Homo sapiens: one gene and its partner. The protein of the gene in region 1 interacts with the protein of each later gene in a pairwise test. Each region holds a gene or a part of one and is shown in the gene's direction. Other genes may lie near its edges.

Region 1 (7,022 bases):
CCTCGTAGTTGGTGACATTAAATTTCAAATCTGAATGACAATAGGGAGCCAACCACAAGGAGATCAGGGAGAGGAACATTTCAGGGGCAGAGAACAGCAGGTATGAGTGCCCCGAAATAGGAAGTTTGGCATGTCTGAGGAACGCAAAGAAGATCATGAAGGGTTAGTGGGAGAACACTGCAGAATAAGGTGGGCAGAGTTAAGATCACAGAGGGTTGTAAACCATGGCCCAGTGACTTAGGAAAAGGGAACCCACCTAGGGATGAACTCTTAAAAAGGATTATCTATTTTGCCTTTTCTGGAGGGCTCTGGCCTATTTCCTGTTTTATTCTTTAGGCACTGTTCAAGAAGGACATCAGGACAAGTTTGACTGTCTAGAAGAGTTCTTGTAATAGAGTGGTATTTAAGCTATCACAGCAGTGGGCACAATCAGAATTTCAAAACTGCAAGAGGTTGGACTGTTCTGAATTTGAATCTTGAAGTTTCAGTTCAGCCTGTCATCTTCTCTTTTAACCTTCTATTTGGAAATACTTTCAAACTTACAGATAAAGTCGTGAGAATAGTATAAGGAATACCATGTTGTCTACCTTTTTCTCAGATTCACCTATTAACATTTTGCTCTATGTGCTTTATTATTTTTTCTCTCTTGCATTTGAATCATTTGAGAAAAAGTTGTATATGTCATGGCCCTTTATTCCTAAATACAAAACCACAGTACATTTCAACTTCAGTATATTTAACATTGGATAACAGACAGTAGATTCAAATATTGTTAACAGTGCTATTGATTGACTGATACTGTCCTTTACAGCATTTTTGCTTCAGTATAGGATCCACTCTAGGATCACCTATTGCACTCAGTTATCAAGTGTTTTTTTTTCATTTGGAACATATTCTCAACCTTTCTTTGTTTTTTATGACATTACATTTTCGGAACTTGTAACTTCTTTTAATAAGAATAAAATAATAGTTGACATCCGTCAGGCACTTACTAGGAGCTTAAGTACTTGACAGATACTATTTCAGTTAATCTTCACAACACTTCTACAAGGTGGATACTATTATTGTCCCATTTTACAAATGGCGAGTTCTCTGTTTCTAGTCAGTAAATAATCAAGAGGAGCCGGGATCAAGAACCCAGTCCACCTAGCTCCAGAGGCAATGTTCTTATGGCTTCAGTGACATGTATTATCATCAGTGTATCTTTGCAATTCTGAACCAGTGCAGAACTATTTGCAGATAGAGTTGCTGCAGAAAGGAAATCAGGAAGTAAAGCTGCACACGAGCTGAGGAATCACAAGCAAATTAAAAACCAATCTCCTCTCTATCTGTAGTGAAATACAGCACTAGCCCCTTCAAGTCCTTGTACCCATTCACACCTCTTAAATGTCAGTAGTCTTACTACCATTCATTTATTCAACAATAAATATTTGAATAAATATTTGAATGCTTGCTGCATTCCAGTGATGGTCTCAGAAGAAATGACATTATATTTATTATCACAAAGTGATGGAATAATACAATCAAAAATGTGAATATGACAGTACTTTTCTTTGAATAGTGACCTGCTATCGTGTTGGAGGCTTTGCTTGGAGTCATCTTCAGTCTTTTCTGTTGACTTTACCTTTGACCAGTGATTAAATCCTCCAGGTATGATGAGATGTGATGTTTCTGAAAAGTTGTTTGATTTACTTGTGAGTTGCAGTGGCAAAGGTTAGGTAGATCTAAGTTTGCATAAGGAGTATTACCTTTCTTAAAGATACAGCCTGGTTTCATTATCATCAGTCTAAAGGATAATCCAAAATAGTTTTTAAAGCAATCTAAATATCCTCAGTGCCTTTTGAATCAAGTAGGTTTGTCCCCAGGTGACTTACTTGGAAACTCAAGACCGAGAAAGGTAAGAGCAGGTATGAAGGAACTTGCGGAAGACCATTCACACAGTGATGGGCCATTCGCTTTTGGTTTTTGTCTGTCAAACAAGTGCCAAGAGTTCTGTTCTATGTTAACTACCAGCCTTGTTTGTCTGTTGAAGAATATGGTGTTATCCTGACATAAAACTGTTCTTCCCTCCAGAGTGTTTAATTCCTGAGGCAATGATATTAACAAAAAAAAGCAAATAATAGAAAACATTTGTATACTGTTTACTGTGTCAATGACTGTTCCAAACACGCTGCATGTATTGGGTACCTGAAATCTCACACCAACCCTATGAATTAGGTATTCTTAGTAAGCCTATATGAGGAAACAGACAAATTTTTAATAGAGTAATAATGGGCATTTTGGCTTCAAATACAGGTTTCTGTTTGGATACACTAAGGCCCAGTTGTAATGTGGAGGCTTCTACCCACTAAACAAGAGTTTCTAAACATTTTGAAGCTTTTAAATTTTCCATTGCAGCCCCTGTGCCAGGAACTCTACCTCCAGTGAATTGCTGGAAGAAAGTGTAGTTTCACATTGTTAAGCATGACTGCCATAAGCACATTTAATTTCTCAGAACTTCTAGTGATGCCTCATGGAACTCTGGGTTTGGAGCATCATATATTCCTTGCTGAGAGAAACCTTATGACTGGCCCAACCTCTCAGAAAAATGTGCATAAAGTCACACGGCACATTAATGATGAACCCAGGCCACAAACCCTGGACTCCTGACTCCCAATTATTTTAATCTTTGCACTTTTCTGCCTTGTTAAACACAGTTAAGAAACCTACCAAGTGTGCTATCCAGCTAAAGTAGAAAAATGAAATGGACAGTTAAAACTATTAAGCTAGTTCATAAATTCTCATGGCTGGAAGCTCTTATTCAATTTCACTTGGAAAAACAGCCAGAGCTCATTTGAGGGCAACCGAAGTAGAGAAAAATTAAGAGCAGAGCATGCATAGCACAGCGGTTACATTACAGGGGAATAACTGGGGGAAAAATGACTTAAAGTGGAAACAAACTTTAAGATATTCAAATAAGAGCATGACAAGGACCTGAGAATCTTGAGGTTTAAATCTAATAAGATAGGCTTAAGCAGTAGATTCTCTGCTCTAAGGCTTGGGCTTTGGCAGTACCAGCCTGGTTAACGTGTCATGATATCAGGTTGCAAATGTTCTGGTTGAAGCTGTACCAAATGAGATTCAGGGATTCTGATTTAGCTGACACTGAATGAATACTTGTCATATACTTGGCGCTGGTCATGGACAAGACACAAACTCTGCTTTATTAAGGAGATTCAGAAGTAGCCATGGGAAGAAAGGAACAAGGAACTAATGTACAAGGAACTAAGCGCTGTCATGGAGATACAGGAGACGCGCTGCAGACATACCAAGAGGAGTGCTATTCACTTTGGCTAGAAGCAAGGCTTCCTGGAGAAGGTAGCATTTGCAAGAAATGCCATCAGTGGGACATCAAATGTTGGCAAAGAGAGGAAGCAAACTAGAGGGGAGGGTGAACATTCCATTTAGGATTTGGGGTTTGGTGGCAGTGAAAGGTTTGAAGTAGCCCCTTTTCTTCTGTCTTCTCTCGCCTTCCCCTGAGCAGATTGGAGTTTAAGCTCAGGTAGAATTTAGTCTTCATGAGTTAGAGGAGGCTGTTTCACCACTGAGGATGCAAGGGCTCAAGAATCTTATAGCCAGTGTTCATGGCTTTGGGATTCTGGGATAAGGTGAGTGTCTCCACTCCACTCCTTGCCCTTCAGCCTGCACAAGTGGACTCTAGTGGTTTTCTGCTTGCAAAAGTGGTGGGCTCAGCAAGGATACATTTCTGTGGCAGGATTGAAGACGGTTGTTTAGGTGAGGCAAGGCGCAAATGACCTTAGACCTTTCACCCTTATTAGATCCCTCTCAGACTCATCCTTGTCCCCATCACCATCCAAGGAATTAAAAAAATTACTCTTTTTCTCTCAACAAAGGCTAGTGCCCCTTCTCCCGCTCTGCTAATCCTGAGCCTGCCTCTCCTTTCTTGTGTTTTCTCAACAATGCCTTATTCCCCCTTTTCCCATCTAGTAGCATTCAGTACACAGTTTTAGGTAGCTGGACTTGAGAACCACAAGAATAGGGCATTGTCTTTGTTTGGTTACTTTCCCCGGTGCTCAGTGCTCAAGTAGGCACTTGTTGAATATTAATGGAATCATTGAAGAAACTGCAGGCATTTTCAGACATACTATACATAGTTGTGGTTTCCCATTCTGGCCGCTTTAAAAGCACTGCATCCCTCATTGCATGGGCTGGTTTAGGTTTAAAAGGATTCAGTGAACTCTTCCTCTCATTATTGTCCATCCAGGATTTGAGGTGCCTTTCTCCTTGAGCCCGGGTTTCCCCTTCAGTGTCAGGTGATACCATATTCACATCAAGGTCAGCTCCCTCACGGGCCTGGCTGGTGCTCCTGGGACCAAGGCCTGGTCATCCTGTGTGCCTGTGATCTGCTTTCTGGGTAGTGTCCAAACCTGACGGCCCTTCCCTGGAAGGATTCTCATGTCCCAGAAACACTGGACATAGACACCAAGGGACTGGTTTTATCATGTAGTAAATCCCCTTATCCCTCTGAGTCTGTTCCCCCACTTGTGAGTCAGGATCCTACATGCTTGTGCACTCATAGGGTTGTGATGGGTACTTTGTAAATTGTCAAATCCTAACCATATATCAGGTCTTAATCTTCATATCACAGCAGTTCATGTGGAAATGGAGGGGGAAGAAGCTAAAGACTTGCCAGCCAGAGGTTTCATGCGGTCTTCCCCTTTCCCCAGGAGGTTCACAGAAAGCGTAAAGAGGCTGATTTCACAGCTATTTTATCTGAAACAAAGCAATAGGAGCAATAATAGCAGCTAACATTTGAGTACTGTGCCAAGCTCTTTAAGATGAATTCTATTCAATCTTCTGGCAACCCAATGAGAGGTTAGTCTTTCAGTCCAGTTTCACTATGAGGTAGGTAGTTAAGTGACCTTCCCAAGGTCTCATGGCAAAAGGCAGAACAGAACGAGAGATCTGACCCAAGTCCCACACTCCCGCCTTCTCATGTTTCAGCAACCCAGGAGGAGAGAGCATGTGTCCTGCATCTTTTTAAAAAGGACCTGCCATTACTTAGAGCTTCACATTTATAGTGGGTGTGTCCTGAGTAAGCTCACACCTATGGCTGTGGAATCCCTTTTCAGAAAGGCAATCTCGATGACCTAGTGATCTGGCCTAGTCCGGCCAAGGTGCTGGGGGAAGGATGAGGTCATCTGGGGGCCTTTCCAACACAGTGACACTTGTGGGGACAGTTGTCTACACTGGAAGAAGCATTGGTGGTGCCTGTGGAAGTACCACAGAACATTGACGCAGGGTCTGTTTGTCTGTGCAGGTGCTACCTTTTTACCCACACTTAAGTGACGCAAAATGCCCTTCAATGGCGAGAAGCAGTGTGTGGGAGAGGACCAGCCAAGCGATTCTGATTCTTCCCGGTTTTCCGAAAGCATGGCTTCGCTCAGTGACTATGAATGCTCCAGGCAGAGCTTTGCAAGTGACTCCTCCAGCAAATCCAGCTCTCCTGCTTGTGAGCCGATGGGGGAGCAGGGGTTGTGGGTGGCAGGGGTACTTCTAGATATGTGTTGGATTTGAAAACTCAGAAACGCCTGAGAGCAACAGACTTCCCCTCCTTTCTAGATGCACCAGAATAGCACTGCAGAGGCACTGCAGCTTTCCGGGACACATTCTCAGAAATAGCCACTAAAGTTTACAACCTGCTGATTTTTATTTTGATCACTGCTTCCGATCTGTTTCGGTCTGATGATAAGTCAGGACTTCAACCCCATCTGTCTTTTCTCCCAAACAGCAGAAAGCCATTCCTTGAGATTACTTCTTAGATCTCCACTGAAGGATAAATTCAAATTGGTCTTTTCTGATTATTCCTGATTTACATTGAAGGAAACTGGCCTTCATTGAAAGGTCAGGAAGGAAGTGAAATAATCTAAAGGGTTTCATGTTGATTTCAAAAAAATATTGTGCAAATCACCCCAGGAAGGTACCCACAAGGAGAATTACTACATTAGGGGTGTGAGAAAGAGTTAAAAGAGAGGCCACAGCAAAAGGAGATATCTTTTTCCCGTTTTTGCATGTAGAAACTAGAGATGGGTAAAGCAGATGTGTTTGCCTTTTTTTTTTTAATTGGCACTTTATTTAGTAAATATAACAGCTTTAACTGGCAAAGCAAATGCAGGAAAAAGCAACTAATGTTTAATATGCTGAACTGTCCACTTCTTACAAATTGCTTCATTTGTATTTTAAATTTTTACATTCTCATTTTTTAAAACTTAGAAGATACATAAGAATAGAGAAAAGAAAACATTGCCTATGATATCACTCAAAGACGACAGCTGGCAGTGCTTTGCCGTATCTTTATCCTTCACATAGACATATGTGTGTATATGTGTGTGGACTCTTCTTGCTTAGTATTATAACTAAAACATTTACTCATGATTACATGTTTTTGAAACATTGGTTTTATGAATACTTATTACTTTACCAAGTGAATGTACGGTAAAATTAACCATTGATTAATCACTGGACATTTAGTTTCCATTTTTTTTTTTTTTTTTTTTTGCTGTTATAAATAGTGCTTTATGAACATCTTACTGCATGAAGCCTTTCTGGAAAGACTTTTGGATATCACTGGATTATTGGACCAAAGTATATAGACATTTTTAAGGAGAATCTTGAGTCAGACCTGGCAAAAGAAATTAACAGCAGCCACCCCAGGTTTCTGTGCCTTTTCTCACTCTTTATACTGTATGTGGTGTTGTTGCATCTGACACCAGGGTACCTAGGCATCCTGAAGAAGGGTTTTACCAATTCTGTGTATCACCTTTCTCTTCTTCCTCCTCTTTCCCTGATCCTCCTCCTCATCTTCTCCTAAAAATTAGGTAGCCAGGCGCAGTGGCTCACACCTGTAATCCCAGCACTTTGAGAGGCTGAGGCAGGCAAATCACCTGAGGTCAGGAGTTCAAGACCACCTGGCCAACATGGTGAAACCCCATCTCTACTAAAAATACAAAAATTAGCTGAGC
Region 2 (7,452 bases), on another chromosome or scaffold:
CGAGAGCTGAAGACGTGGTTCCAGTCTGAGTCTGAAGCCTGAGACCCACGAGAGCTGAAGACGTGGTTCCAGTCTGAGTCTGAAGCCTGAGACCCACGAGAGCTGAAGACGTGGTTCCAGTCTGAGTCTGAAGCCTGAGACCCAGGAGAGCTGAAGATGTGGTTTCAGTCTGTCTGAAGCCTGAGACCCAGCAGAGCTGAAGACGTAGTTCCAGTCTGAGTCTGAAGCCTGAGACCCAGGAGAGCTGAAGATGTGGTTTCAGTCTGTCTGAAGCCTGAGACCCAGGAGAGCTGATGGTGTGGTTCCAGTCTGAGTCTGAAGTCTGAGACCCAGGAGAGCTGAAGATGTGGTTCCAGTCTGAGTCTGAAGCCTGAGACCCAGCAGAGCTGAAGACATGGTTCCAGTCTGAGTCTGAAGCCTGAGACCCAGGAGAGCTGAAGATGTGGTTTCAGTCTGTCTGAAGCCTGAGACCCGGGAGAGCTGAAGACGTAGTTCCAGTCTGAGTCTGAAGCCTGAGACCCAGGAGAGCTGAAGATGTGGTTTCAGTCTGTCTGAAGGCTGAGACCCAGGAGAGCTGATGGTGTGGTTCCAGTCTGAGTCTGAAGCCTGAGACCCAGGAGAGCTGAAGATGTGGTTTCAGTCTGTCTGAAGCTTGAGACCCAGGGGAGCTGAAGATGTAGTTCCAGTCTGAGTCTGAAGCCTGAGACCCAGGAGAGGTGAAGACGTGGTTTCAGTCTGAGTCAAGGCCTGAGAACCAGGAGAGCTGCTGGTGAAAGTTCTAGTGCAAGGGCAGAAGACCAATGTCCTACCTAGCTCAACAGTCAGGCAGGCAGAAGTTCCCTGTTTCTCAGCCTTTTTGTTCTATTCTGTTCTTCAGTTGGTTGGATGAGGCCCCTGCACATTAAGGAGGGCCATCTGCTTTTCATGGTCTACTGATTCATGTGTTTATCTCCCAGAAACACCCTCACAAACACACCCAGAATAATGTTCGACCAATGAATGTTGGGTACTTTGTGGCCAAGTCAAGTTGACACATAAAATTAAACATCACAGGGACTTAAAAACATGTCCTTTCCCCTTTCCAAACTTATACCCAGGGAGGAAAGCATACAGCAGGGTGAGATGGGGGATCCAGGATGCCACAAATCAAATAATTTTAAGAAGGAGGACAAAAACCAAAAAGAAGTAGATTTTTTTTTGAGACAGTTTCACTCTTGTTGTCCAGGCTGGAGTGCAATGGTGCTATCTCGGCTCACTGCAACCTCCACCTCCTGGGTTCAAGCGATTCTCCTGCCTCAGCCTCTCAAGTAGCTGGAATTACAGGTATGCGCCAGCATGCCCAGCTAATTTTGTATTTTTAGTCGAGATAGGGTTTCACCATGTTAGTCAGGCTGGTCTCAAACTCCCAACCTCAGCTGATCCGCCCGCCTCAGCCTCCCAAAGTGTTGGGATTATAGGCGTGAGCCACTGCACCCAGCCAATTGTTTTTTCTCTAAAGACTCCAAGACCACTGTTTTAGTCTGCTTACAACTGCCATCACTAAATACCACAGACTGGGTGGCTTAAACAGCAGAAATAAATTTTCTCACAATTCTGGAGGCTGGAAGTCCAATGTCAAGATGTTGGCAGAGTTGGTTTCTCCTGATGCCTCTCTCCTTGGCATGCAGATGGCCGCCTTCTCGGTGTGTCGTCACGTGGCCTTTTCTCCGTGTCTGCACCCTCCTCGTGTCTCTTCCTCTTCAACACCAGTCTTTCTGGATTAGGGTCATATCCTTGGGACCTCATTTAATCATAATCACCTCCTTAAAGACCCTATTTCTGACTACAGTCACACTGGGGATTAGGCTTTAACACATGAATTTTGGGGAAACACAGTTCAGTCCATAACAGCCAACCTATTTTATCTCCCTGGAACCCAGAGATGCTATAGTTAGCATTTATGGTGTAGTCATAGCTCCCTCCAGCCCAAATTTTCATAAAGGGGAAAGATGAGGTGGTTCAAGAGCCTTGTCATAATGAAAGGCAATTCAGGGCCACCGTCATTACTAGTATCATCATCATCACCATCATCATCATCTTTATCCCAACACCTTAAGAACCCGTTCATGATTTATGTGGTGGTTCACAAAGAGAACTCGAAAAGTGAATTTATTCAGCTATGTTTACTGAGCTCACCTGATGCACTCAACTAGCTATTTTTGGTAGGGAGGGCACTAAGATGAATAACACAACCCCTTCCTTTAAGGTGTTGCTGTTTTGTAGAGTGTTTAGACACACACACACACACACACACACACACACACACACACCCCTATACTCCAAACTAGAAAGTGATAAATACGGCTGGGCACGGTGACTCACGCCTGTAATTCCAGCACTTTGGGAGGCCGAGGCAGGTGGATCACGAGGTCAGGAGTTCGAGACCAGCCTGAACAACATGGTGAAACCCTGTCTCTACTAAAGATACATATTAGCCGGGCATGGTGGCGCCTGCCTGTAATCCCAGCTACTCAGGAGGCTGAGGCAGGAGAATCGCTTGAACCCAGGAGGCGAGGTTGCAGTGAGCTCAGATCGCACCACTGCACTCCAGCCTGGGCAACAGAGCGAGACTTTGTCTCAAAAAAAAAAAAAAAAGAAAAAGAAAGTGATAAATACTATGGGGCTGGGCGCGATGGCTCACGCCTGTAATCCCAGCACTTTGGGAGGCCAAGATGGGTGGATCACAAGGTCAGGAGATTGAGACCATCCTGGGTAACACGGTGAAACCCCGTCTCTACTAAAAATACAAAAAATTAGCCGAGCGTGGTGGCACGCGCCTGTAGTCCCAGCTACTCGGGAGGCTGAGGCAGGAGAATCACTTGAACCCGGGAGGCGGAGGTTGCAGTGAGCCTAGATCACACCACCGCACTCCAGCCTGGGCGACAGAGCAAGACTCCATCAAAAAAAATAAAAAATAAAAGAAATGCTATGGAAGAAGTAATAGAATATGCTATGGGAGAGTTTGGAAGAGAAATACACATAGAGTTATACTAATAACCAAAATCCTTTATTGACCATTTATCATGTGCTTGGCACAATTAGCTTAATCCTGAGTCTTAATTGTCAGGATCTTACATTATAAGATAGACAAAAATTCAACGCATGCTTTACTAAGTACCGTTTGTATCAGTGGGTAAAGCACTGTGTTTGGTACTCTCTCAAATGCAAAGATGATTACGACACATGTACTATCGTTTATGAATGGGTGGCCAACAGAACAGATTGCCGCATAGGTAAGCAGAAATCTGCTCTCATTCTCTATTGGCCACAAGCAGGCATGTCTTAGGAGCAGAAGGGTAGGAAGATCTCTAACTGTGCTTGGAAACTTGGGGAGTTACCACGTCTGGCTAAAGTGGTATTGTCTTAAGGAAAACCTATGAATTTGCCTGCGTTGGCTTGGTGCTGAGGAAAGTGGAAGAGAGAGGCTGGGGTACACCTTTCAACATGAATGGAACTGACCACTGGAGGGAAAGAACAAGAAACAGCAGTGAGAACAAGGAACAAAGACCATCCAGCCCCTCACCCACCTGGGGGGAAGTGAGGGGAGATGGGCAGGGTGACAACGTGGCCAACATCTAAAGTGTGAAGAGGGGCTTTTACCAAGTGCCCACCCCTTCCCGAGCAGGGGGCAACCAACAGCATCTGGCGGGTCTTACTACTGGGCAGAGGCAGGGGAACCCTGGTATGAGTTCTGGATTACATAGGAGATGTGACTTGGACACGTTTGGGGCTTAAAAGTAGGAAGGGATCAAGGGGGGAGATTTGAAAATCCCGGTGGAGGTGCGAGGTATCCGGGGAGAGGGTAAAAACGGGAACAGTCTTCAGCACCTGCCTGTACCAGGAGCTCTGTGTATGCCATCTCATTTCCGTCTCCAGCAACCAGGCGGGCCTTGGCGGCAGGAGGCACAGGCTTTGGGAGCAGAGGCCCTGCAGCTTGCCAAGCACACACGGCCCTAGGGCGCCCAGCTGAGACGGCACCTTGGCACCCGGGCCCGCTGCAGCCCGCTCCGGTCAGCTGCACCCCAGTCAGGAGCCTTTCCAGCGGGTCGGAGGAGAACGGAAGTTTGGGGAGACCCGCGCGATTCGCCTGGCTGCATTTTACATTTCTTTCTCCGGCAGCTGGGGTCACGAAGGCTGCTCTCGCCGGCGGTGTTGGAACGTGGACACGTGCGCTTTGGTAATAGGGCAGCCTCCCCCGCGGGCGCAGTCCCCGCTGCGAGCGCCCCCGGCTGCTGAGGCGGGACCGAGGACCCGGAGATTTGAGCCGCGGGTGGGCGGGGAGGGGCCTTTGTGACCTGCCCGCCCCTCCCCGGCACTGTGATGCCGGGGGGCAGCTGCGGGCCCGGCGCGCCTGTCCCCGGCGTCCCCCCCTCCCGGTGTGTCACAACGGCGGAGGCGGCTGTATCTGGAGCAGTCGGGGCGGGCAGGCCCAGCTGAGAGGTGCGCGGGCGAGGACAGCGGCAGCGATGGTGAGGCTTCCCGGGGCCAGGCGGGCTGCGGGCGCGCGGCAGGCGTAGGACCGAGAGCCGAGTCTACGCGGAGGCGCACGGACCCGTCTTCCTGGAGCCGCAGGGCTCAAGGCCTTCTGGGGGTGGCAGTTCAGGGTCGAGGAGTCCGCACCCTCGGGCGGGAACACCCGGTGCCCTTTATCGTATGGGGGAAATAGAGACCAGGGGCCAGTTGTTCCTTAAAGGGACCTAAGGGAGCTTTGCGTGCAGACGAGGGGGAGGGAGGCCCTGGGGAGCCCGACGGAGAAGGGGGCGAGATTCTGGGGTCCCCAGATGGGCAGCCTGTGGACAGAGTGGAGAGAAGGGCGAGTCCGGGGATTCTGGATGGGTGGTCTGGGCCGGGGCGACTGGGGGGCCAGATGCAGTCACGTCTCCGAACCCAGCCTAATGTGACAGGGCCCGGAATGTGACAGAGGACCTAGGGCGCCACGGTCCCCCCACGCGTGGAGGTCTTTCTCGCAAGCCTGGCCAGCGGCTTGGGTTTGCTGCACGCACAGCCCCAGCGCGGCGGGGTCCTCCGGGCGCACTCAGCAGCTCCCAAGTCTTTCCAGCGGTCAGAGTCGAAGGACTTTGGGAGTAAGAAGTCTCTGCTTCCAAAGGCCAGGGGACCTTCGACCTGTTTCCTACCCTGGCTTAGGGGGATCGCGGCTGCTCCCTTCCCTGCCCCCGCCCCTGGATCTTACTGAGGGGCGGCTGCAAACACTCAGTTCCTCTTTCTAGGGTCCCCCTCTCCGCCCCCAGTGCCCCTGGTGGTTAACATTTGCCCCCAGTCCACTTTCCCAAAGCCCAGAATCCCAGGAATCCCTCCTGGACCCCTGATCTTTCAGCAGTAGGGAGATGGGCTGGAAAGATTGGGGGCAGAGTGAGGGCAGAATAAGCCTATGTCATGGCCAAGGTCGGGTTCCCTGGGCAGGCTTGCTCCAGGTGTCAGTGATCCAGAAAGCAGGCGAGAACCCCCTCCGCCCCGCCCTGTTACGTTTGGCCCGTGCCCAGGGCCTCCTGGCTCCCCCGGAGCTCTAGCCTTCCAGCTTCAGTTTTGTCAGCACCCTCCCTCCTCCTAGCGGGCTCCCAGACACCCCTGGGAACTGAAAGAACTTGGGAATATTAGGGAGGGTGGCCACAGGAACCTATTTCTGCCTGAGGACCCTGGTATGAGGCCACACAAAGGGCCCGGAGCTGCCAGTTCAGAATTTTGACTCCTGGCTCTGCAGCTAGCTGTGTGACTTCAGGAAGGTCACTTAACCTCTCTGGATGTGTTTGTTTTACCTGCGAAATGAAGAGGGTTATAATTCAAATTTCCAAGACTCCACTTAGATTTCATTATTTTTAAACTTTTTATGGTAGGGAATTTCAAACATATGCAAACGGAGAGCAAATGGTATAATTAGCGATTATATACATCATCTAAGTTCAATAATTACCAACTTCTGACCTGTCTCACTTCATTTATTCCCTCCCTCCATAATTTTGAAGCAAATGCTAGGCTGCATACTCTAGAATTGATATTTAATATTTATAATATCTAGCAGGTAGCTAGTGTTTTAGGATTTTCCAAGTGCTTCCCTTGCATGCTTTAATTTGGATCTGAATGCCATTGTGGTACAGAGTGGAGCCCAGAGGATGTTTACAGGGGCGTGTCGAGGATCTTAACCCAGCCCTGTGCACAAGCTTGAATGTGTGATCCACAGACGTGTTTCTGACAATGCCTGGTAAATCAACAATTCAAACAGCAAAACTTTATTTTGAACGTGCTTAAGAATTTGGGTGTTTAGCTGAAAACCTATGGTTAAATATTTTGAAATGCGACCACCTTTCATTTATTTTGAAACACTCAATTTTGTCTAGTAGGTTCTATCTAGAACATTTAACTTGTGTGCGTTGCACTGTCTTGATGGCTAATATTTTTTGTTGAACATTTTACACTCACAGAAACTTTTAAAATATCATTTGGCTCATTTGTAAAAGGCTAAAATGACACATCTATAAACCTAGACCCCTAGAATCTCACCCTTACAAAAATGACTGTATTTCTTCTAAGGATTAAGTTTCAGGCTGCTGTCCTGTCCCCTTCACTTCCCTCCCTGGTGGGGGTTTGGGGGAGGTGACCTTGGTGTTAAGGAGAATTCGATTTGGAATTTCTGTAGGCTCTGGGCAAGAAAAGTGTAACTAATCCTTAAGTGTATTTTTAAATGCATTTCTCTAGCTGCTAGGCAGATGAGCATTTTTCCTCTGTGAACTTACCCCCAACCCCTTCTCCCCAGCTACCCACTGCACGGTACCACCAATACCCTTTAGCATTTCTGTCCTGGAGCCTAAAGTGACACAGCTGGTAAGAAGCTGCGTAGGGGCTGGAGTTTACATCTGCTGGGCACCAGAGCCTCTGTCCTGAGCCACCTGCCCGTGCTGGGACCGGCAGGCTACTCCCACAGCAGACCATTCCCATCCATTCCCAGTGTTCTAGCACGCAGCTCTCTGGGAACTCAGACTATGACACCTTTTTTGGGAAGTGGTATGGAGAATCCTGGCCAGGTGCCCTAAGCCAAGCCCATGCCAATGATACCAGGGCACAGAGAAGTTTTCTGTGGTTTATGGGGAGGTGGGAACATCTGCAACACGGCTTCTTTAACTCCATTCCGTTAGGACTGGAGAGCACGAAGGAGCCCGTCTCCCTGCAAAAATGGGCAGTTAGAGGGTTCTGGGGGCCAAATGGACACCCTTCTGCCTGCAGCCTTCTGCAGTCTCCCCATGTAGACAGGCATGGCCAAGCTCTGTGGAGTTGATAGGTGTATTCTGACCTCAGAGCACTGTGTGGGCTCCCAGGGGCTGCAGGTCACTGCTGCCTCCTCCTCCCCTCCCATCACAAAAGGCAGGTTTCCCGAGAAGCACTGGGCGCATGCCTCCGAGT

What was found. The genes of interacting proteins can lie anywhere in the genome.
Region 2: the proteins of TCP11L2 (region 1) and TUBA8 interact in binary tests that used the Homo sapiens proteins (3 or more experiments, as listed by UniProt).

Annotation. Positions count from the first base shown.
Region 1 is NC_000012.12:106,305,721-106,312,742, forward strand, and holds part of TCP11L2 (T-complex protein 11-like protein 2), read left to right. Parts: intron 1-1,561; exon of another isoform or gene 1,562-1,650; intron 1,651-3,210; exon of another isoform or gene 3,211-3,357; intron 3,358-5,320; 5' UTR 5,321-5,355; coding exon 5,356-5,512; intron 5,513-6,572; exon of another isoform or gene 6,573-6,714; intron 6,715-7,022. UniProt on the Homo sapiens protein: Promotes the migration of muscle-derived satellite cells (MDSCs) during differentiation throught interaction with FMNL2 and therefore may participate in microfilament assembly.
Region 2 is NC_000022.11:18,106,361-18,113,812, forward strand, and holds the start of TUBA8 (tubulin alpha-8 chain), read left to right. Parts: upstream 1-4,448; 5' UTR 4,449-4,505; coding exon 4,506-4,508; intron 4,509-7,452.